7 separate regions of the Homo sapiens genome follow, and regions 1, 2, 3, 4, 6 and 7 are each reported to be linked to region 5. Evidence: microRNA targets listed by miRTarBase, many of them from high-throughput screens and not tested one by one. Region 5 holds a microRNA gene; each other region holds the end of a gene's coding sequence.
What was found. Region 5 holds the annotated microRNA hsa-miR-661 (UGCCUGGGUCUCUGGCCUGCGCGU, at 982-1,005, shown strand). A microRNA usually pairs through its seed, bases 2 to 8, with sites in the 3' UTR of a target mRNA and lowers its output. Matches are read on the target gene's strand: a 7mer-m8 pairs with bases 2 to 8, a 7mer-A1 pairs with bases 2 to 7 and ends in A, and an 8mer does both.

Region 1 (4,276 bases), not on the chromosome of region 5:
ACTGTATGGCAATAGCTAGATCATAGTTACCATTTTTCCCACCATCAAAGACAGATTAAATAGTTTCCATAACATGGAATGTGGGTAAGGTTCCTACCCTAATACAGACTTAAATATGTAGTTGTCTCAGGCTATTCGTGGTGAATAAGCAGAGTATTTATTTTAAAATGACCAGGCAGCCTTGGAAAAATTGCTGGGCTTTAAAGTTGTTGACAAAGTATTTCTTAAATAAATACATCTGATTTAGAAATACCTAAACATGGACAAAATACTTCTAAATCTGACATGCAACTGCATGTGGCTTTTTAAAGTGGTTTCTTAACAATGCTAATGTGACTTAAGGATTTGTAGTTCTATTAAAAACGACTTCTAAAAGTATCTTAGGGTAGCTTGAAGGGTTTGCGTTATTATTTTAGGTCTCAGCAGAGGTATGCTTATGGCAAGAGAAAAATCTTAGGTCTAAATAGAACCCTAAACTTTCTTGGCTGTGACCAACTTTTCTGAAGTACACCATCAGAGTTTTCACTGACTATCTATCTTTGCAGAGATGAATGAATGTACTGGGCAATTCCTCTGCCCAAGGAAACCCAGCAGGGCCTGGGTCTGCTGTACCACTGACCAACTGCTGGGGAGGCTAGGGGACCTGTCAGTACATGCTGTAAGGTTGGGAGTTCAGTCTAGCAACCAAGAAGGGGTTGCCTGGTGTTCTACAATGCCTATAGTGTTTTCAAAATGCCTGGGAAAAAATTCTCAAAAGAAGTGGCAGAATGGTCTTCTCACGGTATAAAACTCCGCAGGATTTTTTTTTTTTTTTTTTTTTTTTTTTTTTTTAAGGAAAAAAGTATACCTTTTAAGTTCAGCTTCCTTAACTACTGGCAACAGAGAGAAAACTCATAATTTGTTTTAAAAAGCCCAGTTACAGCTGCCCTGCCTACCCATGGACCATTGACTTCCCAGCACACTCTTAAGAATAATATACAGAGAGGCACCATTTTGCTCTGGGTCTTATGGAATCCTAGAGCTCTTGAATACGTTTTGGTGGTCCTACGGAGAGCTGTAACTAGCAGTGGAGTTGTTGCTTATTCCAGCTGTGTGCTTTTCACTTTCCGATCTTTGGACCCAGAGAATCATTTGCCATGGAATCATCTGGCTAGTAAGACACTCTTATATGGATGCAATACAAAAAGTGGTAAATTAAAGCAAAGCAATCATGTGGTCCTTACTCTAAAAGAGACAATATGTAAATGTACTATTATAATAAGGTAGCTCTGCAGATGTAATAAGCTACTCATAAATTATTTGGGTTTAAGAAAACTTAAGACTATGTTAAACTGGACAACATCTCCATCTTGAGTGAGAGTAATTAGTAACTAGGATGACCACACATTCTCCTAACACGGGCAACAGTCTAGTCTAATTGTTATTGCATTTCTGACCTGATTCTTTTAAAGGGGCATATATTCCCAATATATACCATTTAGAATGTATGTATGTTTCTTGGATGACTTAATCTGAAGCCATATAAGTCCAAAGTAGTGAGACAGACAGTATATCCTTGACTAAGTTATCAGGCTGTGTTCTCTGCTTATAAAATAATTTTTTAAAAAGCCTCACTTCACAGTCCTGTTCCAAAAATCTTTCTGTGAAAAAATTGAGGCCTATGTAACACCATGAATATAATCATGTTAGAACATAATCAGTTCTTGAATATTTATTTCCTTTAAGAGAATATCAAACTGATGTCACCAAATCTAAACCCACTTGAAGACCAATAGCTATTACAGTTGTACTACAGAATAGGTCAAAGTCACCGTTAGAAATATTACACTTTATTGAATTCTGGAGCAGCTAATCTACCCTCCCCTATTGACCAATGACAAGAATGGAAGAAAATATACAATGGTTAAAGAAAGAGTCTATAACCACTGTTTGTTTAAAATGTTGAAACAACTTTCACTGTACTGGTGAAACAGTTTTAATACCCTAACATACACAGTAATGATTCATTCTTGTTTAAAACAAGAGGTGATTTCGACTTGGGATTGGGATTTTTATTTTTTGAGATGGAGTTTTGTTCTTGTTGCCCAGGCTGGAGTGCAATGGCACAATCCTGGCTCACTGCAACCTCCGCCTCCTGGGTTCAAGCAATTCTCCTGCCTCAGCCTCCTGAGTAGATGATGGGATTACAGGCATGCACCACCACGCCCAGGTAATTTTGTATTTTTAGTAGAGATGGGGTTTCTCCATGTTGGTAAGGCTGGTCTCGAACTCCCGACCTCAGGTGATCCGCCTGTCTCGGCCTCCCAAAGTGCTGGGATTACAGGCGTGAGCCGCCGTGCCTGGCCTTGACTTGAGATTCTGAAGTGAATTTATTCACACTGATTGTGCCCTCTACTTTAGTAAGGTTCTGGCTTACAGAGCCCTCTTCCCATCCTCTGATGTTCAATTTTAATATACAGCAATCAACTCTTAGAGGACAAAGAAATCTGGAATTGGGTAGCATGAGCCACAGCTATATAGCCCACACTAATGCATGTTCTGTAGTATAAGAAGGCAGTTCTTCCCTTTCTTTTCTGGGGGCTTGTTCCTTTGTCCACTTGCAGCTAAATTCTTTCTATAGATTTATCACAGATAAGAAGGAGGTTGTTTTTGGATAACAAATAAGCATTTGTGCTATTAAACAAACAAAAGGTAATAAGGATACTGTCTTTTCCCTCAAAATAGAATCCTGCCCTAAAGCAACGCAAGTAGAGCATACTTCTGTGCAAAGCCAGTGATAGAGAAGCAGCCTTGCCAGAGTCACTGAGGATGAATTAAAGGCTTATAAAAGAAAACTTGACCTTAACAGAGACTACATTTGATCATGGAAATAATACATTTCTCCACTGATATACAATACCATGTAATGCACTGGAAAAGTTGGACCTTGGAGTAATAGCACAATTTGTAACATTACAGATCACCTCTTCCCACTCTTTGTTCCACTCTGAGACTCTTTCCTTTTCCTCGTGTATCCAGATACACTGACATACGGATGATTTTAAAAGTGTCACAAGCCACAGTGGAGCCATATACATGCAGTTCAGCCTGATTTTACCCTTATTTTCTTCTAATACAGACTCCATTACAATTTTGGACCATCTGCAGAGAGTACAGATACACAAAACCAAAACAAGTATCTATGATAATAAAATCTTCAGAAACTTTTCAGACGTACCTTTCATGGAGCCCCCTCCCTCCCCCGAGTAGAACCCTAACAGGGACCTCGTTTGTTCCTGTGAGTCCTGCCAGGACTTGTTTAATGGGTGCTTGGGGTTTTGGTTTTCCTCCTTATTCTTCCTCCTCCTCCTCCTCTTCATCATCATCTTCGTCATGGCAGTGTGTAATTTCCTGGGGGGCCAGTGGGAAGAGGTTGGGAGGTTTAATCTCACTAATTGACCGTGTCAGCTGGTGCCGCTTGTAGTCAGTGTCTTTGAAATCCACTGATGTGCGGTTCCGGGTGGCAAGAGGAGACTCCATCTCATTGATATCTACGTGTGTGTGCTCCACCGTTGATTCATGAGGCATCTAGACAGAAAAAAGCTAGAGGCTCAGAAAGCAGGCAGAGCAAAGTAGCTACTCCCCAAATCCTAACCCCTCTCCTCTGTTAGGTGGCCATGCAATTACATCTATAATGGACCACAGGACAAGTCAATATAGACTTATCTTCATAGAACTACTTATAGTTGCCTGTCTTCCTCTCTCCCTGCCCCTCAAAATGGTGCCCATATTGTCTACTGCAGCTGGAAATTGGAAAAGATGGAGAGGGGAGTTTACTTTCTATTTTACAGCAAAAACAAGATAGTCCTGAAACAGATCAGAATAAAGGAATGTAAAAACCACATTTTCTTTTTCTTGAGATGGTCTCTCGCTGTCACCCAGGCTGGAGTACAGTGGAGCAATCACAGCCCACTGCAGCCTCGACTTCCTGGGCTCAATCAATCCTCCCACCTCAGCCTCTAAAGTTCTGGGGTTACAGGCATGAGCCACCATGCCTGGCCCACATACAGCTTTTAATAGAGTAGACTTCAGAGAGTAAAGTTACACTCTTAACTTCCAATGTTGGTTCTACTTTCTCAAAGACCCCTTCTTATGCAACCATATAACCTGCCCCTGGGCTCTGTACATCAGAAAGAAATGTTCAAACTATCTCCTGTGCCATCTCACAAAGGTGGTTGCTGACCCTGGGCTTAGAGTACATCTTGGCTGTCCATTACAGCTTTAACTCACCAAGACA
Region 2 (4,117 bases), not on the chromosome of region 5:
AGATAATATATGTGAAACTGCTTAGTAAAGGTAGTGTTCCGTTGGCCTTCAGTCATCAAAACCATTTCTATAAATGTTGAATGGACTCCTTTGGCTGACATTTTTCCATGACTACATGGTCACTTAATATGAATTTATATAATGGGTTGAACAGATGTGAATTAGACATTGGGCTTTATGTCCCTTATTTTAATGTCCCTATTTATTTCTCTAGCTAATCTTTGAAAAGGTAGTAGCCTCTGGGTTAGTAACTACATAGCCCATCTCTGGACAGATGACGGGCTTCTGGTACTGTAGCAAATTTGCGTTCTGCCCTCTGCTCTGGCCCTGAGAGATCTGTTCTTAGGAATTTTTCTTAGTAAGGGAGAAGTTATCAGATTAAGCCTTTGTAGGAGTAGGGCATGTTTGCAGGAGTTTAAGGGTCCTTGGGGCAGTTTTGCAACTGAATCGTGTCCATTGTTACCCTAATGTTCTTTTGAATCTGGTGGTGTAGGTAGCATTAAACCAAAGCTGAAATTCTCAAGTGGCCCAGCATTATTTGTTGCTTACAGATTGTCAAACAGCTGCTCAGGAGCCACTGTGGTAGTTTAGTGACTAGACTCATGCCACTTGTTACTTCTCACATAAGCTACCTGAGGGCTGGTCAGGAAGTTTAGATGAGAGGACATAGCATTGATCACATGAGTTGCCTGCCTTCCTCTCATTTGAGTCAGAACTTAGTGTTTTGGCCTGGAGGTTCACAATTCTATCATTTGACTGGACTGTGGAATTCAAACTGTCAGTGTTTCTGAAACAATTTTATTTCAGTGAACTCTTGGTGTGACTTGCTAACAAGGCAGTTCTCTCCCTCCGATAGAACCCTTTTAGTGGATCTAAACTGAAGATTCAGCTGTGTTACTTTCACGGAACCAAATTATAAGCGATTCTGTTGAATGAACCAAGTGCTTCTGTTGTGACCTTCAGGACAAGGGAAATTGATCCTTTATTCATGATCTATTACTTACAGACTTTTAGAAATTTAATCTGTGAAAGGGTATTACTGTCACTGTCTTTGAAGGCATTATTACCAATTATAAAGCTTATTTTAAGAACAAGTTTTAACTATTTTTCTTACTGTTTGATTTGTTCAGACTAAGATTGTTTGGGCATCTTAACTTTGTTCTGGATTTATGTGTTGCCCTATCATGAAGATCCCAGAGGTGTAAATGAGTCCAGAGAAACATCCTGTCACCCATGGTCAGTGACACAACTCAGGAGTTTCTGGCTGAGATAAGACCCTTGGCCTTTTTAAGGCTAAACTGAGAGAGGGACCAAGTGGGGTGTGGTGGGGTAGGGAGAGAGGGAGACAGAGATGGAGGGAAGGATATTGATTGTGGGTTTTATGAACTTGCATACTAGGTTTATCTTAGTAAAAATGTTGATAAGTACAACTGAGGTCATATTGTCTTCTGTTTTTCCTGTGGTGGAATTAACCATGCTTTTGTTCTTCATCTCAATTGCAGGTGTGTTCATCCTCGAGGTGGTGTGATTCAGAGTGTTTCTTCATGGAAGCATGGCTCGGGCACGCAGTATGTTAGCACCAGGCAAACACAGTCATGGACTGCTGTGACTCCCCAGCAGACTTGGGCTTCACCAGCAGAAGTTGTTGACCTTACCTTGGATGAGGATAGCAGGCGTAAATACCTACTGTAATACAATGTCACTGTGTTTCCTCTGCACTGTTCCCTTCCACTTCCTCATCCTCTTTGTGACATGGAAGTTCATTGTCATAGCTTCAGCTTCAGAAGCTGTTTGTGGCATTTGTAGGATTCAAACTCATGGAAAATTCCCTCCTCTTCCCCCCTTTTTTTAATTAAAAGAAGTCACTTAGGAAAATAACATCACAGAGAAAAGAATTTCTTCTTTCCCTCAGTAGGAATATAGAATGATGAATTTTATTAGACAACTTTATTTTACTTGGTGACTTTTAATCTTAGGAAACTCTGCCTTCCTTTTAGAATAATATTTTAATTGCCAGGCAAAATGGGTTTCAGTTTTTGAATCTTGTATTTATTTTTCTGTATAATGAAATTAATATCTAGACTTGACCACTATCTGCCCACCCCATTGGCACTCCCATCTTAGGGCATTCGCACACATATCAGTCAGGTCCTTATTGGCACCTAGTAGGGCATGTGCATTTAAAAACTTGTCCTTAAAAATAGAAGACAGAAGTATTAAAATTATATTTTCTTTTATTTTAAGTCTTCTGCCTTCTTTCTTGAGTTTGCTCCTGTTGACTTCCCACAGCACAGATAATTGACATGTCCCTTTGTGTTTATAAATACTACTAAGGTGACCTAGTTGTTCTCCTTGTTGCAATAATTAATAACTCTTTGCAAAATGTCTCCTTTGAGACAGAGGCATTTCAGATAGATACCCACCATGAGGTGTTCTGGGCATCTGAAGGTATTAAGAGTTCAGTGGGAAAAATCTCTCTCCCTCGCCTTTTTTTCTGGTTTAGTCAAATAACGGGTGAACATAGAAACCTGTTGGGAAGAATATGAAAAGTTATGTGGCCTCTGAGGCTACAGGCACTTGCAAATCCGAGAGGAAAGTGCCGTCTTTCATAGCTGGTCTCTGTATAAAGAGTATGTAGCAACAACTGTTTAACATCCGAGATGAAGTGGACCTGATGCTGTATTTGGGTATTTTTCTCCTCTACCTTCTAAAAAAAAATACCATAAGAAGAATCAGAATGTACCATAAGAAATCAGATGCAAAGCACGTTAATGTCATTGGTAAGTTTTACAGAGTCTAAAAGGATTAGCAAAGGGTAGCAGGAGCTTCAGGGAATTCAGGAAATGCCAGCATTGGAATTTTGTGGCATTAGTTACTACCTTCTTTCTTATAATATGTTGTAGTTACTAGTGAATTCTTTTAAAAGCAATACCTAGAGTTAGAACACTATGTACTCTGCACAGGGGGAGTGAAGTAATATTGGCTTAGAAGACTTCACCTTTTGTTTTTCATGGTTTTTGTTTGTTTTGTTTTTGTTTTTGTTTCCATTGTTACCGTTGCTATGGCCCTTTGCCTGTCTCTCCAAATCCCCTGGTGGCTCTTCTTATCATTAAGAGTATGAGAATTACCATTTTCAGTTTTCATTCAGCAAACAAATTTACCAAGTGCCTGCTCTGCATAAGGCACTGTGAGGGGTGGGTGCTCTGGGGGCTGCTGAGATGAATGACACACACCGCACATACACATGCATCAGTGTCTGCCTGCCTCCACCTGCCCAGCCTGTTCTTCTTCTTCTTCTTCATCTTCTTCTTTTTTTTTTTTTTTTGTAAAGACAAGTTTATTCCTTTACGCTTCTTGTTGCATTAGTTCTCCTGTATGTTCCTTCTTCCACAGGAATGTATTTGTGCATATGTTCTTTGATCTTCTCTGATAGCATCTCATTTGATCTGGCCTCTGTCCTTCATCAGCTTTTATTTTTTTTATTTTTATTTTCTGCTTTTGTTAGATAAGGCTTTTAAGATCATGAACCTCCAGCTTTAGCAACTCATATATCAGTCTCTCACATGGCCACAATTCTAGACAAAAACCAAAGACCCAGAGGCCAGAGCAAAGTAGGACCTTCTGAAGATTCACTACTGGTGTATCCTTGGACCTTCACATTTTACTTTAGGATTAATTTATTGAATTTTACTGTTACACATAGTTTTTGACTTGAATTAAAATACTAGACAAAGCAGAAATGTACAATTTCTGGTCTGTGTTTTCCAGGAAATTCATAGAGAAGAGAATAGAGTGGATGATGTGACTTGAAGTTTTTGCAGCTTATTTTTTCCCCCACTGTCAGGGCAGAGGCCCATTTTAATGAATGTTTTTGCATGACCTGTTCTTATGTTAACCACATATTTTTTTTCCCAATTCCACACAGCAGGTGATTTCCCGTGTGACATATTTTCTTCATAGTCCCTAATATAGTCATCCTCTACAGAGTTGGCGTGCTGTGTGCACTGTGGATTAGGAACAGAGTGGAGCTGTAACCAGTCTCTTCTCTGGCCCTTTGCCTTTATGTCAGCTTGCACTTTTGCCTCACTTATTCCTAGTCCAGCTCCCAACTGCCTGA
Region 3 (4,040 bases), not on the chromosome of region 5:
TGCTGCCTGTTCCCCTGACATCTGTCCTCAGCCCAAGAGTCCCAGAAGACAGTAGCAGGAGGACAAAGGCAATGACTCCAAATGGATAGGAAATACTTTTATTGCAAAAAGTACTGAAGGTACCCTAAAACCTTAAGCAGGATTCTGGACATGGAAGCCTACAGAATAGACAAAAATAAATATGTCAACCTGCCCGACCCTCTGGGGTGAACTGGATGTGGACACTGGAGGGAGGGCGTCCTTTATTACATACGCGTCTCTGAAGTCATATAAATATAGAATACCTTATAGTAGATCAGCATTAAATACCAGTCACTGTGTTTATATAACTTAATTTGTGCTGTAGACAAAGTTCTGTACATGTAACATGTGGCCATGCCCAGGCATCCCAGCATCTATCCTGAAGTCAGTGTAAAGACATCCTTAAGTGGTGGAGACATGACAGCCCAGAACCCACAGCAGAGGGAAACTGGGGAGAGGAGGGGGCCTGACCCTGGATCCCCCAGCTGGTGTCCACAGGCTAGAGGGACCCATTGCTGCAGAGGCTGGTGCCTGGTTTTCCCCATACTTGGTCTTCTAAACCCAAAGACAGGGTCCTGATGGTGGAGACCTGGGTAGGTCCGGAGGACAGACACAGGAGAGGGCACAATCCCAAGCGCAGCTCTCCTGCACTGGCTCGCACCACAGCCCTCATCTGAGTGGCCGACACAAGCCTGGAGTACGGCAGCTGCCAACCACAGCAAAGCCGCAAAAAAGACTGAGAAAACAGGAACCCAGAGTTCCACAGGGGCAAGGCCTCGCAGACCAGCCAAGCCCGAGATGCCCTGTGCTGGCAGTCATCACAGTCTGGACAGCATGTCCTTCCGTGGGTGCCCAGCTCAGTGCCTGGAACGGTCAGGGATTGAGGGCGTAGCCAACCTTGTATGGCCAAACCCAGCCCTTACGCCCCTGCTGACAAGGGAGACAAGCTGCCCCGCTGAACTCCAACAACCTCTGGGTGGGCTCAGCAGCCCCTAGGAAGTTAAGCGAGAGCTACAGGGCAGGGGGGCTCCCTGAGGGAGTTTGCACAGACCAGGAGGGGCCAAGGGGTAGCCCCAAGGGAGCAGAGGAAGGAGAAGGGCAGGAAAAGGTCCAGGGCACAGGGCAAGCAACAGTGCCAGAGGGTGCCTGGTCACAGGAAGCCCAGCTGCATGTTCCATGCTGCCCACAGGACTCCCAGCCAGGCCCCAGCAGGCCTGGACAGTGCTGGGCCCCCATCCTCGGCCTTCCCAGCACAGCAGGTGCTGGAAGATGACCATGACCCAAGCGAGAAGAGCCGCCATGAACTGTGGTCATACCAGCCAGGGCGTTCTAGGACAAGACTTCCTAACCCGACAGCAATGACATCCACAGTGTATGGACTGGGCTCTTGAGGAGCACGAGGGAGAGGCCAGGCAGCCCTGTCAGGGGTCCTGGGACATATTAAGGCAACCAGCCACGCCATCTGGCCAGCACAAGGGACTTAAGTGCAATCTGCTAAGTGACAGTGCTAAGACTGTCTTCCTGCTGAGAACATCTCTACGAGTTAGTTCACTAGAAAAGGCAATAAACATTTGCTTTAACCTTCTTTAACCAGGAAAATGCAGTCTAAATGCCCTCTTCTCTAAAAAGGAGGCAAGGACAAAAACTCAAGCCAAGGCTACTTTGGGTACTTTGAGGGGAAACTGACCATTTCCAAGAGAAACCCAGGGGCTGCCAAGCTGCGGCATTCACCCTCCTGCAGAAAGCTTTGGCAATGGGACTTCTTAGACTGGACAAATCAAACAAAGCTGACCCTGTAGAGCTCCTTCTTCTTCCCACTTCTTCTAAGGTCAAACTGCAAGCATTTTCAACTTTGGAACCAACCACCAAAGCCACCTCCTGCCCAGGACTTCCTTTAGAAGCAGTGGGACTCCTCACGCGCAGGCCCAGCAAGGGCTTGGGCACCCGCAGCTGTCTGCTTGGCTGGGTGTCAATGATCACCTCCCAGGGCCTCCCGGGAAGGAGAGGGTGAGAGGTGAGGACGCAAGAGCCAGTCAGGGGGTAGGAGCAGGGGGCTATGGCTGAGGAGGCCCAGCATCTGATAGGACCACATCCTCTTCACCCTCCAAGCCCACACCCCTGCTCATGTCCCACTGTTCTGGGTGCAGCCTCTGGAGGGCAGCCCTCTGAGGTGTTTTGATGTAAGCCCCTGGCAGGGGCCAGGAGCTAGGGAGGCAGGCTCCCCACACCTCTGGACATGGAATTTGGGACCCCACTTCAGCCCGTCTGCCTGGTCCGCTGCTCCAGGTTCAGGCCATCCTCAGCCTCATGGGAGGACCCCTTCTCCCTTCACGCGTCCCTCCCAAGTCATCGTCCTCTCCCAAGGTGGGAACAAGTAGGTGCAGATGACAACGGCAGGAGGGGTGTGCGCCGCGTGGGTGAGCTGTGATCCGCGGGGTGGGGGTGACCTCCAAGACCCAGAAACATGTGCTGGCAGGAAAGTGGCTCTTCCTCAACTGCAGGGAGGGCGTTCCCGACGGCCTCTGATTCAGGCTCTCAAGGTACAGAAACCTTCCAGGTAATGGATCCTGGGCTGGCTTCGCCACCCAAGAGCCTGTGCTCCTCCTGTGAGCCCAACGTGTCCTTGTGCACAAAGGAGTGGGGCACTGCCCCGCAGAGGTGCCAGTTACCTGCACCGAGGCCCGTGCCGGGCCAGACTGGGGCTAGTGCAGCTCATCGGGGTCCCGCGGCGGCCGGGGTCGGCCTGGGTCCATGTCATCGCTGCCACTGTCCAACTCGAAGCCACGCCCACCCGAGAAGGTCTGGGGCATGAACTGGCGGAAGATGCTGACACTGCCATGCCAGAAGGTGGGTTCTGGGAGCCGCCCCACCACGCTCCACGCGCGAGTCTCTGGGTCATAGGCCTCTACCACGTCCGAGAGTTCAAATGTATTGTCGTATCCCCCAGAGACGTACAGCTTCCCCCCAAGGACGGCCAGGCTGCCCCCCACATGTACCTGTGGGCCAAAGGGATGAGTGAGTGGAGGTCAGAGGAGAGGGTAGGGCAGGGCCCCACCTGGGGAACCACTGGAGACAAGGCATGCCCTGTCAGTACCCCAGAGGGGTGGCCTTGGCTCTCCCAGAAAGCAGCAGAGAGGCCAACCCCTTTCCAACACCCTGCCTAGGAGAACGGGCCTCCCCGGAGGCAGCTGGGCCTTCCCTATGGTGATGAGGGTGCCCGCTGCAGCGCCAGGCCTCCCCGTGTGCAGGTCGTGCCGAGCAGCGCTTCCTACGTTCTCTCTCAGAATCTCTGCAGTGGCCCTCTGGGCTGAGCAGTGCTGTTCTCCCCATGTTACAGATGGGAAAACTGAGGCTTGCATGGCTGACAGTGGCAGAGCTGGGCTCTGAACCGCGAGGCTGGATGATTCCTTCCATCTTTCCCAAATTCGCTATGACTATGTGCAGCTTACTGCGGGGAAAACAGAACGCTGGGTCTCTTAAATGCCAGGACATTAAGCTGTGATGTAAGCTGTGAGGCTGGATGTCACGGAGTGTAGGTTTGGAAATGTTAACAGACACACAGGAAAGAAGGCTGTAGGCAATATGATGTGTACCTCAGACTAACACTGCTCACATGGCCAAATGGCACTGAAGCCTCCCTGTCCCATCACTGTCAGGCTGGGCACCCCTCTTCTCAACAAGCCCAGAGAGAAGGGGTGGACCCTGGTTGTCCTATTCAGAACACACAGCAAGTGCTCAACACAAGTATTCCCACAGTGGGCTGGGCATGGTGGCTCATGCCTGTAATCCCAGCACTTTGGGAGGCTGAGCCAGGCAGATCACAAGGTCAGGAGATCCAGACCATCCTGGCTAACACAGTGAAATCCCGTCTCTACTAAAAATACACAAACAAAATTAGCTGGGCGTGGTGGTGGGTACCTGTAGTCCCAGCTACTCGGGAGGTTGAGGCGGGAGAATGGCGTGAACCTGGGAGATGGAGCTTGCAGTGAGCCGAGATCGTGCCACTGCACTCCAGCCTG
Region 4 (4,245 bases), not on the chromosome of region 5:
AGCGTCTCTCATCTTCCTCCAACTACCTTCTGTTTTCTCGTCCTTTTTAGCTTCTCCAGAATCATGCACCAGACGGTGAAGGAACTGTCACCAAAATGTAACGTGTCCTTCCTCCTGTCTGAGGATGGCAGCGGCAAGGGGGCCGCCCTCATCACGGCCGTGGGCGTGCGGTTACGCACAGAGGCAAGCAGCTAAGAGTCCGGGATCCCCAGCCTACTGCCTCTCCAGCACTTCTCTCTTCAAGCGGCGACCCCCTACCCTCCCAGCGAGTTGCGCTGGGAGACGCTGGCGCCAGGGCCTGCCGGCGCGGGGAGGAAAGCAAAATCCAACTAATGGTATATATTGTAGGGTACAGAATAGAGCGTGTGCTGTTGATAATATCTCTCACCCGGATCCCTCCTCACTTGCCCTGCCACTTTGCATGGTTTGATTTTGACCTGGTCCCCCACGTGTGAAGTGTAGTGGCATCCATTTCTAATGTATGCATTCATCCAACAGAGTTATTTATTGGCTGGAGATGGAAAATCACACCACCTGACAGGCCTTCTGGGCCTCCAAAGCCCATCCTTGGGGTTCCCCCTCCCTGTGTGAAATGTATTATCACCAGCAGACACTGCCGGGCCTCCCTCCCGGGGGCACTGCCTGAAGGCGAGTGTGGGCATAGCATTAGCTGCTTCCTCCCCTCCTGGCACCCACTGTGGCCTGGCATCGCATCGTGGTGTGTCAATGCCACAAAATCGTGTGTCCGTGGAACCAGTCCTAGCCGCGTGTGACAGTCTTGCATTCTGTTTGTCTCGTGGGGGGAGGTGGACAGTCCTGCGGAAATGTGTCTTGTCTCCATTTGGATAAAAGGAACCAACCAACAAACAATGCCATCACTGGAATTTCCCACCGCTTTGTGAGCCGTGTCGTATGACCTAGTAAACTTTGTACCAATTCAAAGACCCGAGTGATGCTTAATGGCTGGGGACGGGGGGACAGGCAGAGGGGGGTGCAGTTTCTTGGGATGTGGCAAAGACCAAACACTGGGGAGTTTTGTGGCCTTCTGGGCGGAGGAGTTTTTTTTTTTGAGATGGAGTCTTGCCCTGTCACCCAGGCTGGAGTGCAGTGGCACAATCTCAGCTCAGTGCAACCTCTGCCTCCCGAGTTCAAGTGATTCTCCTGCCTCAGCCTCCTGAGTAGTTGAGACTACAGGCGTGCATCCCCACACCCAGCTAATTTTTGTATTTTTAGTAGAGAAGGGGTTTCACCATGTTGGCCAGGCTGGTCTCCAACTCCTGACCTCAAGTGATCTGCCTGCCTTGGCCTCCTAAAGTGCTGGGATTATAGAACAAGGCCACTTGGCTTCCAGGCTGCTTGGGTTCAGTGAGAGGACTGCAACACTGGTCCCCTCTCTGCCATCCCCACCCGGATCCTGCCCTTCATCTTCCTCTCTGCCAACCCCAAGACAAAGGATGAAATGTGCTCTGCCCCACCCCTCCCCTCCCTCTCTACCCAAACACAGATGAAATCTTGAAGCAGCCCAGGCTGGCTGCACGCTCCCGCTCCCGGATCTTTTTTCTTTATTTTTTATTTTTATTTTCTGTAGACAGGGTCTCACTGTGTTGCCAGGGCTGGTCTCCAACTCCTGAGCTCAAGCAATCTGCCCCCCTCAGCCTCCCATAGTGCTGGGATTATAGGCGTGAGCCATCGCTCCCGGCCCACCCCTTCTGGATCTTAGATTGACCTCATCCCTAGGAAATTAACCCTTGTCTGACCTTTTACTCTCCCTTCCCACCCCCACCTCAAGAGATTCCTGGTCTATCCCCAGGCTACCATTTTGGATTCTCCCCCAGCCTTGGTGGGTTCCATGTCACTCTGCACCCAAGCACCTTGTGATGTCCCAAGCCACAGCTGCGGCTCTAAGTGGCTTCCTGCGAGACCGATTGCCAGACCACCTGGTTTGGTGAGATCAGAGTCCCTTTATTAGGGGCATGGTGCTGGTGTCTACGGAGCAGTGATTTTTTGGAGAACACAGATAACATTACACCTTCCAGTGTGCATTGACAATGTTACATGGCTCTTCTGCAGGGGAACCAGGGCGTGGAGGCTGAGTTGGCAAGCAGGAGGTGTGCCCCTGGGATGGGCTGGGCCAGACCGGGAGCTTTCTGGGAGTTGGGACAGTTGCTGCTTTCTGCCCTCTAGCTTCTTGCTGCAGAAGTGGGAGTGGGAGCTGTGCTGCTGCTTTGTAGGTGGCTTTTGTGTGAAATAGTTAAAAGTCATGGCTAACAGCCAGGTGTGGTGGCTCACATCTGTAATCCCACCACTTCAGGAGACAGGCAGGAGGAATGGTTGAGCCCAGGAGTTCAAGACCAGCCTGGGCAACATAGCAAGACCCCATATCTACAAAAAACTTAAAAACTAGCTGGGTGTGGTGGTATGTATCTGTGGTCCCAGCTACAGGGGAGACTGAGGCAGGAGGATCCCCTGAGCCCAGGAGGTTGAGGCTGCACTGAATCATGATGGTGCCACTGCACTCCTGCCTGGGTCTCAGAGTGAGGTGAGACCCTGTCTCATAAAAAAAAAAAAAAAAAAAAAGAAAGTCCTGGCTACCATGTATTGGGCACTTAATCTGGTCTGGCCTGCTAGTTTATAGGCATTACTCCCATTGTTCCTCACAGCATCCCTGTGAAGTAGTTTTGATACTGGGCAGAGGTCAAAGTGACTTGCCTGAGGAAACACAGCTGATTTTTTTGGCTCTTAATCACCATCTACGTGGGCTGTATCTGACTTCTTAAATACTGAGACAGAGAAGCCCTCAGCTGACTCAGTCACTGGGCTTTGTGAAATAAGAAGTTTCCTCCTTTGTATCCACAGCCTGATGGCGAATCAGGGTCATGGTTGCATTGCCCACAGATACGTTTTGTTTAACTTATGCAAAGTTTATGAAAATTTGGGTCAAATTCAACAAATCTGGAAGACTCACATACAAATGTGGATTTATAGCTTCTCTTGAAAGATTTAGAAGATCTAGCAACAGTGGGCTCCCATTATCATGTGGCAACGTTTGTCCAGAGCTGAGTAGTTCTTGTCCCCTTTGAATGCCTGTCCTCTCCAGGTTGCCATGGCCCCCACCATTCCCTATTAGCTCAAACTGAGGGTGGAAGTCAGTTGCCTTTTATCATCACATTTGCAGTTTTTCTTTTATACATATTCTTGTATGCCCCAGGAAGGCATTTGAGCTTGCATCTCTTAAATTAGATAAATATCAGCTTACACTGTCTTTTCTGACCCTTACTGGATCCTCTGAAGTGCTCTCTGAGATGGGTGGCTGAGTCCTCTTAAAGTCAGCATCCTTTCTGGAGTTCTGGCCCCATGTTGTCTTTGTATTGGTATACTGAAGGATGGGGCATGAGCTGAACTTTCAGATGTGGTCTTCTCGATTGGCTACTTCTCAAAGGGTGCTACACCTCATTCTGCAGCCAGGCACAAGGCTTCAGGGTTCAATAGGCACCTATCTCAGTCCATTTGTGTTGCTTTCATGGAATACCTGAGACTAGGTAATTTATAAAGAAAAGAGGTTTATTTGGCTCATGATTCTGGTGGCTGGAATATCCAAGATTGGGCAGCTGCATCTGGTGAAGGCCTCAGGCTGCTTCTTGTCATGGTGGAAAGTGGAAGGGAAGTGTTGTGTGCAAAGAGATCACATGGTGAGAGAGGAAGCAAGACAGGGAAACTGAGGACACCACACTCTTTCTAACAACTTGTTATTTTGGGAACTAGTCCATTCCCACAAGAGTGATGATTCACTTCAACTGGAAGGCATTAATCTATTCATAAGGGATCCATCCCCAATACCCAAACACCTCCCACTAACCCCTACCTCCCAACACTGCCACATTGGGATCAAATTTCAACATGAGTTTTGGTGGGGGCAAGCAAACCATACCCAAACCATAGCCCTGATCCATCCTGGGGACGCCCCGCCTCCCCACTGGTAGCCTCGGAGGGGGCTGTGTCCCCAGCCATGAACAAAGTCTCCTTAGTGTGACACCTGTTGACTCTCGTGGAGAGGGAGGTCGTGGGAGTCAGCTCGAGCTTATCTTCCTTGGTGGGTGTGACCCATGGGCAGCAGCGGAAGGCAAGCCGGAATCCAGAGCGAAACCTGGGGGAGCGAGGGGCACCTTGAGCCAGGGAGTTAGGGGCTCAGGAGCTGTGATGTGACTGCCCCCACCCCCAGGAAACTGACTCCCTTCCAGAGGAAAG
Region 5 (4,276 bases):
GCTGCCCCAGGGGTGTGTGTGATGTGTGTCCCGGAAGCACAGGCCTGTCCGGACCTCCGTGGAGTGGTAGAAGAACTGCCCGCTGCCAGCCTGGGGCACTCCTCCCGCCAGGAGCTGGTTCTCACCCAGGCCATTGAGTCAGGCTCCTCTGAGGCTTCCCCAGCACGTGGCAGGGAGTGGGCTGAAACGTCCGGCCTGTCGGCCCCTGCCCACTGCTGGCCAGATGCTGTCCTGGGCTCAGCTGGGAGTTGGGCCCTTTCTGGCATGCCTGGGTATCCCTGACCCTCAGGGCTGCCTGGGCCCGCCCGACCCCTGGCCGCCCAGAGTGGGCCACTGCAGGCATTTCCCTCGGCCGCACGTTTTTGAGGTGTGGGGCTGGAGAGCAGGAGGCTGGGGTGGGCCCGGCCCTCTTGTTGTCCGCGGGCTTCCCAGCATGGACCTGGGTGGCCTGCCCAGTGGCCCGGGGCCAGGCTGGTTCACTGTGCCTTGCTGTGGGCTGAGGTAACTACACTGGAGGCCACCTGGGCTCAGATGGCAGCGTGCGGGACAGCAGGCGGCGCCTCAGGCTCCTGGTCTGTATGAGGCCTTCATGGTATAGGACTTCATGGGGTTTGCTGAGGGTTCCATGTGGTGCCAGGAGCGACGCTGTGGAATGGGGTATACCGTCAACGTGCATTCTCCTGGGCCTGAGGGGTGCGCCCAGCAGACAGGGGTCCCAGGAAGAGGAGCAGGACTGTGCGTGTCCCACGTCCTGTTTCCCCGGCTGCATTGGGATCTGATCTGCATAGGATATGCTGTGGGCCTGCCTGTGGCCCGGCTCTCTGACCCAGGCCTTCCACAGAGCAGGGCTTCGGGACTCCTGGGTGGAGCCAGGCCAGTCTCCTGCCGTGGCCCAGGAGAGGCGTCTCCATCCCAGATCCCTGGGACCCCAGGAGAGGCTGTGCTGTGGGGCAGGCGCAGGCCTGAGCCCTGGTTTCGGGCTGCCTGGGTCTCTGGCCTGCGCGTGACTTTGGGGTGGCTGTCCCGGCCACCGGTGGGGCCAGGTGCTGTGTTGAGTGACCTGCGCAGGGCCCTCTGGGAGAATGGGCGGCCTCTTCTCTTGGCCCCTGTGGCCTTTCCAAGAGCACCCCCTGGCTTGGCAGGGCAGGTGGGTGGGGACTGCACCGCCTCCTGCAGGGACGTGAGCCCGCACCTCCCGCGCCCTGCTCTATTATATTAGAACCCCCTGTGGGAGCTGGGGGACCGAGGTGTCGGGTGGCACCGTCCAGCCAGACCTGACTGCAGCGGGGCCTGGGTGCCCTGGCGCCGTGCGTCATGTTCCAAGTCTGGGTGGTGACGGTCCTTGCGCGCCCTCCTCGGATATTTATATCCCCTGGGCCCCTGCCCACTGCTCCCCTCCCCCACAAGCTGCTGCTGACAGCAGCACGGCCGTGCCCTCCTCCCACCCGACGCTGCCGCCAGTGGCTTGTGCCTCCTCCGAGGGGCCTGTGACCTCCCACACCCCTGGCCCGCTCCGTCTGCCCCGTGGGCTCCTGCCACCGTCCCCGATGAAGATCGTGCCCGGTAGGTGGGCAGCCCTTGAAAGCCTTGTGAAATCCTGGCCCCTTGCTGGGGACAGGGGCCAGAGGGCTGGGGCTGAGGCTGGAGGCCAGGGGCGCTGTCCCTCGCCCTGCACACAGCCTGCCTCATGTGCCCTCACCCAGACCCCCTCAGCCCTGGTCTGCAGTCTCACTTTTGGGGTGTTGGGGCTGGTGAGGAGGGCGAAGTTGAAGGAGTGCAGTGGGTTCAGCTGCAGGCTTGAGGTGGGGGCTCTGGCATCCCTCCATGCCTGCCAGCTGTCCCCAGAGGGCAGCCTTGGAGGCAGAGTGGGCTGCTCGGGCCCCTCTTCTGGTGGGGACAGCAGGGGGAGGCTGGGAGGGAGGGAGGGTGTGTGCCGAGGCCGCGGGCAGTGCTGGGGGGCTGCGGCTTGGCCAGGCGTGCGGCTGGCCCCTCCTCCCGGCGGGTGTGGCCGCGGGGACGCAGGGGTTAAGGCCAACTAACCTTGAGCGTCAGTAGCCCTGCGCAGGGACAGCTGAGCCGGCCGGGTGGGGAGCGAGGGTGGGGAGGCGCCGAGGGCCGGACCCGCGGAGGGAGGAGGAGAGGAGGCGGGCGGGAGCTGTTGTGGGGCTGCCGCCGCGTATGGGGCGGTCCTGCGGGCAGGGCAGGCTCCGGTCCCGGCGCTCCCCCTCGCTCGCCCTGCACGCAGGGAGGGGGCTGTCTAGCCTGGAGCAGCCGGTTCCCAGCGCAGGAAGGGCAGCCCTGGCGGCTCCGCGTGGCGGCTATGGAGCCCTCGGGCAGCCTGTTTCCCTCCCTGGTGGTTGTGGGTCACGTTGTCACCCTGGCCGCTGTGTGGCACTGGCGCAGGGGACGTCGGTGGGCGCAGGACGAGCAAGGTAAGCCCCGCTGGTGGCTGCCAGGGACTCGAGGCGGGGCAGAGGGGCCGCCTGCCTCCCGCCCCTTCATTCCCTGCGCCCTCCCCTTCCTGTTTCCAAGCTGAATGTCAGTGAAAGCAGTGTTGCCCCTCCACCCCACCCTGCAGTGTAGACCCTGACCCTGCTGCAGTCCCAGGGCGGGGCGGGCTCTGCAGTGGCCCTCAGCCTGCAGCCTGTGCGGGACAGGTGGGTGGAAGCGGAGGCCGGCAGGGCAGGAGCGTCCCCCACACGAAGGGAGGCCTGTGGCAGCCGCCGTGGCAGGGACAAGTGGGCAGGTGCCTGTCCGGCCAGCACTGAGGTGGAGGTGGCTCCCTGCACACACAGCAGGGGGTGGAGCCACACGCAGGTGAGGCAGGTGCCCTCATGCCCTCGGGCCGCACAGGGGGCGGGGGCAGCCAGGCTGTGCCCTGCCCTCCCTGCTCAAAGTCACCAGCTCCTGGGCTGTGGTCCCAGGTGGCAACCGTGCCCAGCACAGGATGGGGCGGGGCCCTGGGGATTGGGCAGCCTCAATTATGGGCTTCTGGCCAGAGGGACTGCCTATCGGGGACCTGGCTGGCCAGACCTCTCCTGCAGTGAGGGCGCTGCCTGGCTCAGCTCCTCTGCTGGATCCCCGGACTTGAGATGAGTCAAGATGGGGCTTCTAGGCGTGGCGCTGGGGACGCCCGGAGCTGCCGGGGACTCAGCTGCCAGGATGGGACTTGGGCTGAGGGCTTCTTCCCCATCCATGTTTTTGGCTGGGGACCAGACACTGTCCCTGCCTCCCCACCTCAGCCCACAATTGCCCCCTTCGGCCACGGTCCTGGCTCACAGGATGCCTCTACTCCCTGGTGGTGCCAGACGCGGCTCAGCTCCTCGGTTCTGCCTCCAGCGTTGTCTGCCCACCACCTGGCCCCATGCCCTGCCTTCCTCCCTGGGCCCTGCAGTCCCCACCGCACATCCTGCTGGGAGGCCCCCTCCCATGCCGCTTCAGTCCCAGGGCAGCCTCCCAGCCCGGCCCGTGGGTTGGGGCGCGGCTTCCTGGCTGCGCTGGGCGGGGCTGCGCGCCAGGGGCAGGTTCTTTGGGTCTGGGCCTCGCTCCCGCAGTGGGCGGATTGTGGGGGGGAGGTGGAAGAGGTGGAGAGCGAAGCCGGCAGCCTCGCAGCGTGGGCTGGAAGCAGAGGCGCCGCCGCGGTCCAGCTCCCCGCACTGTCCGTGGGCCGAACCAGGGCTCCGGCCGTGGCCGGCATGTCGGGGGCGGGGGGCGCCTTTGCCTCGCCGAGGGAGGTCTTGCTGGAGCGGCCGTGCTGGCTGGACGGGGGCTGCGAGCCGGCCCGCAGGGGCTACCTCTACCAGCAGCTGTGCTGCGTAGGTGGGTGCAGTGGCGTGGCCGGTGGCACAGAAGGGGCCACCATCGCTCTCACCTAGTGGGGCTGGGTCTCTGCTGGGAACCGCCGCCTGGGCTGGGATGGGGGTGGCGCCTTGGCCCGGTGCAGCCTTGCCCCCGAGCTCCGGAAACACCTGGGGAGGAAGGCGGGGTGATGTTCCCCTACCCCCATTTGTTTGTCTCTAGAGAAGGGGCTGGAGGGGGCGGGGCTGGAGGGGGCGGGGCTGGCCCACCCCCGGCTGTTCCACGTCAGCCTGGGCTTTGGCCTGGGTTTCCAGGACACGGGGGAGGGAGGAGGTGCTGAAGGCGGGGCTCCAGGCCTTCTGTGGACTTGCTGCAGTCCTGGGCCAGTGGGATTCCCTTCCCAGTCTTGGGGTTTCCATCCTAGGACCGTCTCCACTAGCTGCGGGACCTCAGCCATAGGGTCCACACCTGTAAAACG
Region 6 (4,276 bases), not on the chromosome of region 5:
TACTTTTGAGTTGTTTTCTAACACTGTTCCATAACTTATGCTAATTCATCCTTAACTGTTTCTCAACTGATCCTTTGGCCCAATGGTTACCTGGGACTAGTGGTACCAAATTGTGACAATAAAACAAAATGCTCTTTAAAATTATACTGAGAAAGGACAAATAATCTAGTTGTTACTGGCCTGCTGTAGAAATAATTTAATTGAATATTATTCTCCAGAATAAAATATCTACACTAAATTGTTCATCTCTTTCTTCTGATGATACATACAAATTTAAGGAATATAGCAAGAGTTGAATCGATAACCATATAATGGAAAAAACAAGAAACAAGAAAGATGTTAGCTGTTAAGTGAATAAAATTAAAAATGAAAGCAAGTGAAAAGTGGTTCTAAGCTAGACTTTTTTATGCCTTTTGTTTGTTTTGGAACCTAAAAGGCTCCTAATAAATGTTACAAATGTATACAATAAAATTAACAAAACCTTAACACTAGTTATAAAGAAATACTAAAGACATTACAAAATGATGTATTTTTTTCTCCCTTGGCAGTGGTGGTAGCATAGGAAACTAAGAAGTAATCTATGCAAGTTAACAATTAGTTTATTTCCTTTATAATGGACAAAATGGCCAGAAAAAGACTTTATTAATCATACAATTGGTGGCATATGTCTGTTGTCCAGCAATATGAATAAAACAGGCACTGGCAGTGACAGCAAGTGACGATGTGAGGCTTAAAACTCATGGTATTGGCTGGGCGCAGTGGCTCAGGCCTGTAATGTCAGCACTTTGGGAGGCCAAGGCGGGCAGATCACCTGAGGTCAGGAGTTCAAGACTAGAATGGCCAAAATGGTGAAACCCCATCTCTACTAAAAATATTAAAAAAATTAGCCTGGCATGGTGGCATGTCTGTAATCCCAGCTACTTGGAAGTCTGAAGCAGGAAACTGCTTGAACCCGGGAAGCAGAGGTTGCAGTGAGCCAAGATCGTGCCACTGCATTCCAGCCTGGGTGACAGAGCGAGACTCCGTCTCAAATGAAAAAAAAAAAAAAAACTCATAGTATTTCTAGTAAGTATGACAAAGGACATTTTTACTACTGCTTAAAGGGCTGGTTATAGACTCAATTGTGCCATAAAATGATCTTATCTTTGAGAGCTTCCTTTTTGAATCTCCTGGCATCGAATACTTTCACACACCCCAGTTCTTCTAGTCACTGGAGAACCCAATTCATACTAACAAGACAAGGGCAATGTGTTCCATGCCAGCAATCAATTACTGTAGTGACTCTTGGAGGGTGACAGGAAATATTCTGGAGGAAAATCCTGTCCAATTATACTACCAAGGGGGCCACCCACTTGCTTCACACTAAGACTGGCATTTATTACCTTATTATATGATATTAACACATTCACTATGTTTATGTTTTGAACTGTAGGGCATGGTCCTGATAAAGCAAGCTTTGGTTCATATAAATGTATATTGCATACACTTGACTCATATTTAACTATTTAATTATCCTAATTGCAACTGATCTTTTATTTCTCAAGAACAGACCATTTTCCTTTGAATAAATGCATAGCAATATTTTTAACATGTTACTGAATCGGTACACTACCCTTGGGTTATTCTGTTTCAATGCTTTATCAGTGATTATGTGGATTTTTCTAATCCTCAATTTAACACACCCAAATATAGAAAATAAGTACATAGCTTGATTTTTTACAACTTTAAGGAAAATGCTGAAAGCAGAACTTATGAAATGCCATATTTTACCTTAATTTTAGGTGAAATAATAAAATAGAAATTCAGTAATTCATGTAAATAAAAAATATCCCCTCAAAGACCTTACTACATTTTACAGATAATGCAAATTAAATAATTATACAATTATAATAGCCTCAAAACTGTATCTCAATCATGACTCAATTATAATATCTTTTTGCAGTTTTATGATTATTCTGGAGAAGCTGAAATTTATAAATTCTATTAAGATCAAAGACCTTCCAATACACTAAAATAATACTGAGACCATCATGATTTCTTATGAATAATCATTGTTTTAAACATCTTTGTGTCTTCACATAAATTATGAAAATTTAACTCAGAAGAAAAATACTGTAATCCATAATCCATTAAATAAAAAATACAGTGAGCTAGGTCAAAGTCAGTATTTTAAGAAATAATTAAGGTATTGTACTCAAGAGCACTTTTCTTTTTCACTAGGCTAGGAAAGTGAAACATAATTAGCATTTTACTCCGTGACAGCAAGTTCACTGCACTTCTAAATGCTTGACTATCTCCAAAAATACACTTTTCATTGTTTTATAATACACACATATTTTATACTTGTGAGTTAACATAGGTATTTTTCTTGAGAAGACATTACAAAATGAAGCACTGATATGAACAAAACCTCACAGGCAAGATTTTAGAAAATCTGAAATCATCTTGCCTGGGTCATAATTCAAAGACAGTGACAAATGTTGTTAGGGGAAACAAAATCAGTAGAAATATAAAATATGAAAAGTCTTTAAAATCCAGACAGCCAATATAAAAAACAGACAGACTTCAGTGAAAGCTTGGAGAGCTGTTTAAAGAAATGAGGTATGATGAAGTCATAGTGCTACAATATGTATCAATGTATTAAGAACCTATATTTCAAAGCTCCAAAATCAGCAAATCATAAACTATTTGCTGCTGTGTTCACATGACCTTACTGGTCAGATGTTTAATGGTCACTAATAATACATTTAAAATAAGCATGAAGCTAACTGCATGATCATATGGTGAGCTTATCCGCCACATATGAAGGCAAATTATAAGTAAAAATGTAAGCAAACAATTTTGTATTAATAATAAATAGAGCTTTAAGCATTTAACATTATCAATACTTTTAAAATTTAAATAAATGCACTATTTTATACAGAACTGTACCATTTATTATACACACAAGTATATCAGTTCCCTTTGTTAACAAAGGCTGGTTATAGATAATATGGAATGTTACAGTACCATCTTGCATAAAATTCTAGTACGATTTTGTACTTGAAAAAGGGTGCAAAAACACCAGACTAATAAATCTGACTGAATTGAAATATCTCTTCTTTCTTTTTAAAAAGTACATCATTAACACATACACCACAAACTGTACATAAGCTCACTTTAAATCACCAACTGGAGATATGGTAGCATGTATACTGTAGTGTTAATTATCCCTCCCATCAGTTTAATTTATTAAAGCCTTACACTGCTGTTCATTCAGGAGCCTTTGTTGATGTGCAAGCCTGTAATATGAATTACTGAACTCAGGTAAGTAGAATTTAAAGGAGGCCAACAACAGCTGCCAAGAATTATCTGCAGTAAGAAATGTCCTTCTCACAGAAGACTCAATTAGGAGCAAACATTTTTTAGACTATCTTCCTGCTTTCAAATATATTGTAGCCGGTCAAGATTCTCCATTTTGAACTCTGGATGCTGGTGGCTGCATGAAATCCTTAAAAGGAACTAGTGCCTCTTTAAGTGCAGAACAGACTTCTGAAGAAGAACAGGTGATGCATTCTACTAAAGTTGGGTATAAGGCAATTACTTGTGCCCAGGTATTTCCATCAACTGTAATGCAAAAGTATAAAACCTCAAAAGGGTGGAATTAAATAGAGATTATTCAATTAACATGAACACAATCCTTTAAACTGCATGTAAAGAAAAAACTCTGAAACATGAAGATTCTACAAGCTTGTATCTTTTTATCTTTTTAATTTTTCAAAGATTTCCTGCTATATTTAATAAGGTATGGGAAAAAATATATGCTCAGTGTGCAGTCATCAGTAACAATAAATTTGATAAAGTACATTTTAAATGGTATTTCAATTTGTGAAGGCTCTGAAAGCTAACAAAGCAATTCAGAACAATCCAAACCTTTGTCATTTTTAATATAATTGCGAGAGGATGTAGTGTACATTTCAAGAATTAGAAAATAACTTTTTCAGTTGTCTGCTAAAAGTAGAAATCTTTTGAAATACAAAATATGTTTAATGATTTTCCCAGTAATATCCTTGATATTCCTTTTAATTACAAACTGTCACAAACAGATCCATTCTTGTCTTGTACTGTTTGCTAATCTTTAATGTATATCATTAGATGTAGACTTGAGTGGGGAGGAACCATGTCTGGCTTCTTCACCACTATCATGAACAAATAGTACAGCTAAATGCTATTGCTACTGAAAGGACAAAAGTGTTATATCCCAATTAGTTATATTTTCCTATAAGTATTGTGCATA
Region 7 (4,276 bases), not on the chromosome of region 5:
TGTGGGGGGCGTCGCTGGTCCGGGAGGCCAGTTCCTGACTGCAGCCCCCACAGCAAGCCATGTGGAGGGCCTGGAATTTTCCAGACTCGAGGATGGACGATCCAGATGGACCAAGATGGCAGAAGCTGAGGATGGGCCCTGGGGAGCTGTCCTCCAAGGACAAAGTCAACAGACATTTCCCCTACATTTACCACCCAAATTCAGACATACTGGAGAGTAAAAGGTGACAGTGACACCCACGCAATCCCTGCCTCTCCAGTCCTCAGCATTCTCCTGTGTGGGTGTCACTGCATTTGTCCATGTCCCGGACCCTCCGTCCACTCATTGGTTCATCTTCTTTCCTCAGACGTCAGGTGCAGACCTCAGTTCACTTACCCTCAGGGACTTCCACATGCGTATCGTTAACTAGACTTTTGGGGGGTTGGGCTTTTCCCAGTTTGAAGCACAATTTGCATACAACGAAATCACAAATCTCGAAGTGTATATTCACAGGTTTAAAAAATATTTATGGATTCCGGACCACCTGGCTGGGCTGGGGCATCTGGCAGGAGGTCTGGGGCTAACTGCCCACGTGAGACCAGCCTGGACAACAAAGTGAGAACTTGTCTCTACAAAAAATAACTTTAAACAACTTAGCTGGTGGTGGTAGTGTGGGCCTGTAGACCCAGCTACTCAGAAGACTGAGGTGGAAGGAGCCCAGGACTTCAAAGTTGCAGTGAGCTAGGATCACGTCACTGCACTGGCTCCAGTCTAGGTGCCAAAGCGAGACCCTATCTCTTAAAAAAACAAAAGCAAACAAACAAACAAACGAAAAGCAAACAAAAAACTAGGCCAGGTATGGTGGTTCACGCCTGTAATCCTAGCACTTTGGGAGGCCGAGGCGGGTGGATCGAGAGGTCAGGAGTTTGAGACCAGCCTGGCCAACATAGTGAAACCCCGTCTCTACTAAAAATTACAAAAGTAGCTGGGCATGATGGCACTCCCAGCTACTCAGGAGGCTGAGGCAGGATAATTGCTTGAACCAGGGAGGCGGAGGTTGCAGTGAGCTGAGATCGTGCCATTGCACTCCAGCCTGGGTGACAGAGTGAGACTCTGTCTCAAAAAAAAAAAAAAAAAAAAAAAAGGATGACAGGCAAACTGGCTGAAAGCTATTGTAGCCATTAAGTAGCATTTCATGACTGGGTTGAAATAAAGCAGAAAACAGGGCCAACTCTATAAAAGGGACCACTAGTACAATTTGAACAAGTTGTGTTAGCGATATCGCCAAAGTTACCCACTAGGTGGAGTGAAGCATGTTTTTAGGTCCAGTTCTGTTAAGTTACCCAAAGCAGTTACTGGCTGTAAAATTTTAATTACACATTATCCTGTCAAGGGAGAAAGGTGCGCATTAAGAGAGGTAAGTGGACCACCATGATACGGAATCTCGTTTTGATGGTCTTGGGAAAAGCTGCAGTATGAAGCCGGCAATTTTGCAGTTAAAATGTCTCTGGTTATGGCCTTGGATGGTTGGTGAACTCTGTGCGGTCCACACATCAGGCACAATACTTGTCCCTTGATATTTATGTTAAGTTGTTTTGTTTTAGCTCGCAGGGCATTTATGAAAGAGCAGCTTCCAGTTTTAATAATTCCGTAGGAGAAAACTGGATTGGAGGAACTTAGAATTTAGGGTCCAATATAGTCTACAGGTAGATGATAAAACTGATCTATAAACAATTTAAATATGACATTCCAAAGCCTTCGTAATGTTACAGGATCTCTGGGGTGTTGTTTTTCTGGCTGGAAATCTGTGGCTGTTGGCGCCTTGGCCCGAGTTTTGCCCGTTTCCACTGAGGAAAAGGAGTCATCTCGTATGTCCACTGTCCAGAATCTCCACTCTTCCACCCCTTTGCTGATTTAAGTAAGAGTGATGACCTGCTCCCTGCAGGCACTGAGGAATACATCCATGCAAGGATTTAACAGAGAAATGACAGGAAAACCCTTAGCACTGTCTAAGCGATCACTAAGGATTACAATAAAAAGCAACTAGTGAAGGCATTTAAGAGGAAATTTCCCTGCAATGGGACGGTAATTGAGCATCCAGAATATGGAGAAGTCATTCAGCTACAGGGTGACCAGCGCAAGAACATATGCCAGTTCCTTGTAGAGGTGGGACTGGCTAAGGACGATCTGCTGATGGTTCAAGGGTTTTAACTACTTGTGGCTCACTGAAACTTAAGTGAGGATTTCCCTGTAATGAGTAGAATTTCCCTTCTTTCCCTTGTTACAAGTTTTAAAACCTCACAGTTTGTCTAATTTAACCATTTGAGGTCTGCTTTTAACTTGAACTAGTGTAATTCCTTTATGCAATAAACTGCAAAAATAAAAATAAAAAAATAAAAACATCGCTAAGGGAGGACCATGATTTTCGAACTTGGAGCCAGCTGGAGTCCCACAAGGGGAACCATTATTGCCTACTTTCTGGGTGCTCAGAGCCTCACCTCGGGGCTGCCCCAGCTCTGAGGCATCCCGTGCCCCAGAACTACTCTCAACATGGTGGGGGGAGTGGTCAAGAGAGAAACGCCCACCGTGGTGTCCTTGTCCTCAGTGGGCCAACGCTGAGGCCCCCACAGGATTGCACCCCAGTTGCCTAGAATGGTACCCTCTATGTTTGTGTAAGCTCATTGGTGTTCCTTCCTTCCCTGCCTCGGTTTCCCCATTTCCTGCAATCCCCTCCCAGATAAACTACCTGCACCTATGTCCTGGTCCTAGGTCAGCCTTGGGGGAACCATAGTAAGATCAGGATGTCTGGCGTTTCTGTGCCGGATCCTTGTGGGGTGAGGGATGTCAGGATTGTTTCCTCCAATGCACACACCCCCAATCCAGGCTTCCCAGCTCCTGGCACCCTGGAACTACTCCTGTTCCATTGCTGAGCATGATGTGCGTCTATAATTTCAGCTACTCAGGAGGGTGAGGCGGGAGGATCGAGACCACCCTAGGCGTTCAAGACCAGCCTGGGCAACACACAATTCTCTTTCTGATCGAAATAACCAGATGGTTCTATGGTGCAGAACAGATGTGGGTGTGAGCCAGGGGCACAGACAGGCTGTCTGCACAAGAGAGAATGAGCTGTCCATGAAGCCACTGCTTTTGAAGAATGCCCTGCAAGGCATCAACTGGAATGTGTTTATTACCAAACAAGACAGAAGAGAACCAGGGCCTGACTTGGCAGTGGCCCCAGGCTGCATGGGCTCAGGTAGGCTCAGACCGGCCCCAGGAGTGGGAGAGCCCAGAGAAGAGGGAAAAAGAGTAGCGGCCAGGAGGGGTCTGGCTGGGACATGCCACTCTGGGCCATCAGCTTCTGGATCCACTCAAAGTGGTGGCTGATATTGGTGTAGACACCGGGCCGATTGGGCCGACCACAGCCCACTCCCCAGCTCACGACTCCAATCTGATACCACAGTCCATTCTTGTTACAGGCCAAGGGTCCACCTGAGTCACCCTGGGGAGCAGCGGGGCTGAGGTCAGCCTGGGGCAGAGTGAGTGGGGCAGGGGAGGGGCTGAGAGTGGGAAGGGCTATGGGGCTGGGTAGACTGGGTGCACATCCTCCTCCTCCCCCTGGCAGCAGCCAAGCCTCCGTTTCTGCATCTGCAGAGTGGGGCAACAGTCTCCACCTCCCGGGGTTGGCATGAGGGTCAAATAAGGCACAGGGACACAGGATGCTTTCCTGGGCTGGGAGTGGTGGCAAGGACACTCACGAAGCAGGCATCCTTCCCGCCTTGGGCATTGCCAGCACAAACCATGTCTCCAAAGATGTCCTTGCGGAAACTGTACTTGAGGAAGAGGTGGTTGCACATAGAGTTGTTTATGATGGCGACCTGAACTTCCTGGAGGGTGTGGGGAGATGGCAGTGCTGTGCGGACGATAGTGGGAAGGAGAGAGACAGCAACCTGAGGCCCCTCTATGGAGGGATGGCATAGGCTGCGGGGGTGGGGGCCCTGGGGCACCCACTGTGCCTGGCAGGTTCATCTCCATTACCCCCAGCTCCAACCCAGACCCCAGCACAACAGAGGCCCTCAGCAGCATCACAGAAGGCCCCGGGGAGGGACAGGCTGTCAGAGCTCCCCCAGCCGCACTTTCCCTATCTGTAGAATGGCAACAATGGCCCTGCCTGCAGCCATGGAGAGATTCCTCAGCCAAAAGGAGCCGAGGGAGGGGCGAAGGCAGCTGAGACGGTGTTCAGATGAGCATCCAAAGCCAGACCTGGGGGAGGGGCAGCCTGGCTGCAGCCCTGGCCTCA

Region 1: the mRNA of NT5C2 is a reported target of hsa-miR-661. Seed matches in the 3' UTR shown: 7mer-A1 at 2,337-2,343.
Region 2: miRTarBase lists ARK2N as a target of hsa-miR-661. Seed matches in the 3' UTR shown: 7mer-A1 at 2,014-2,020.
Region 3: miRTarBase lists KLHL21 as a target of hsa-miR-661. Seed matches in the 3' UTR shown: 7mer-A1 at 2,288-2,294, 7mer-A1 at 1,165-1,171, 7mer-A1 at 883-889 and 7mer-A1 at 550-556.
Region 4: the mRNA of TACR2 is a reported target of hsa-miR-661. The part of its 3' UTR that is shown has no 7-base or 8-base seed match.
Region 6: miRTarBase lists MON2 as a target of hsa-miR-661. Seed matches in the 3' UTR shown: 8mer at 2,447-2,454 and 7mer-m8 at 1,001-1,007.
Region 7: miRTarBase lists PRSS21 as a target of hsa-miR-661. The part of its 3' UTR that is shown has no 7-base or 8-base seed match.

The regions. Positions count from the first base shown.
Region 1 is chr10:103,086,342-103,090,617 of GRCh38, forward strand. It overlaps NT5C2 (5'-nucleotidase, cytosolic II), which reads right to left. Exons shown (of 19, transcript NM_001351169.2): 18 at 4,270-4,276; 19 at 1,697-3,567. The coding sequence ends at 3,331. It overlaps CNNM2 (cyclin and CBS domain divalent metal cation transport mediator 2), which reads left to right. Exons shown (of 8, transcript NM_017649.5): 8 at 1-3,881. Among named protein-coding and RNA genes, the nearest start is that of NT5C2, 100 kb to the right of the region's middle.
Region 2 is chr18:46,261,427-46,265,543 of GRCh38, forward strand. ARK2N (arkadia (RNF111) N-terminal like PKA signaling regulator 2N) reads left to right here. Exons shown (of 5, transcript NM_145055.5): 5 at 1,503-4,117. The coding sequence ends at 1,692. Among named protein-coding and RNA genes, the nearest start is that of ARK2C, 71 kb to the right of the region's middle. RefSeq lists an enhancer at 138-639.
Region 3 is chr1:6,590,642-6,594,681 of GRCh38, forward strand. KLHL21 (kelch like family member 21) reads right to left here. Exons shown (of 4, transcript NM_014851.4): 4 at 83-3,017. The coding sequence ends at 2,724. Among named protein-coding and RNA genes, the nearest start is that of KLHL21, 10 kb to the right of the region's middle.
Region 4 is chr10:69,400,941-69,405,185 of GRCh38, forward strand. It overlaps TACR2 (tachykinin receptor 2), which reads right to left. Exons shown (of 5, transcript NM_001057.3): 5 at 2,963-4,144. The coding sequence ends at 3,886. It overlaps HK1 (hexokinase 1), which reads left to right. Exons shown (of 18, transcript NM_000188.3): 18 at 51-942. The coding sequence ends at 195. Among named protein-coding and RNA genes, the nearest start is that of TACR2, 14 kb to the right of the region's middle.
Region 5 is chr8:143,941,935-143,946,210 of GRCh38, reverse strand. It overlaps MIR661 (microRNA 661), which reads left to right and starts at 932; the gene lies at 932-1,020. LOC124902040 (a long non-coding RNA gene) reads right to left here and starts at 2,347. Exons shown (of 2, transcript XR_007061144.1): 1 at 2,041-2,347; 2 at 1-645. It also overlaps a transcript of PLEC not described here. RefSeq lists silencers at 2,031-2,300, 3,371-3,830, 4,051-4,140 and an enhancer at 2,901-3,150.
Region 6 is chr12:62,591,916-62,596,191 of GRCh38, reverse strand. MON2 (MON2 regulator of endosome-to-Golgi trafficking) reads right to left here. Exons shown (of 35, transcript NM_015026.3): 35 at 1-3,606. The coding sequence ends at 3,443. Among named protein-coding and RNA genes, the nearest start is that of MIRLET7IHG, 8.7 kb to the left of the region's middle.
Region 7 is chr16:2,820,568-2,824,843 of GRCh38, reverse strand. PRSS21 (serine protease 21) reads right to left here. Exons shown (of 6, transcript NM_006799.4): 5 at 3,735-3,889; 6 at 3,125-3,478. The coding sequence ends at 3,239. It also overlaps the pseudogene EIF1P4. Among named protein-coding and RNA genes, the nearest start is that of PRSS21, 5.5 kb to the right of the region's middle. RefSeq lists an enhancer at 3,811-4,276.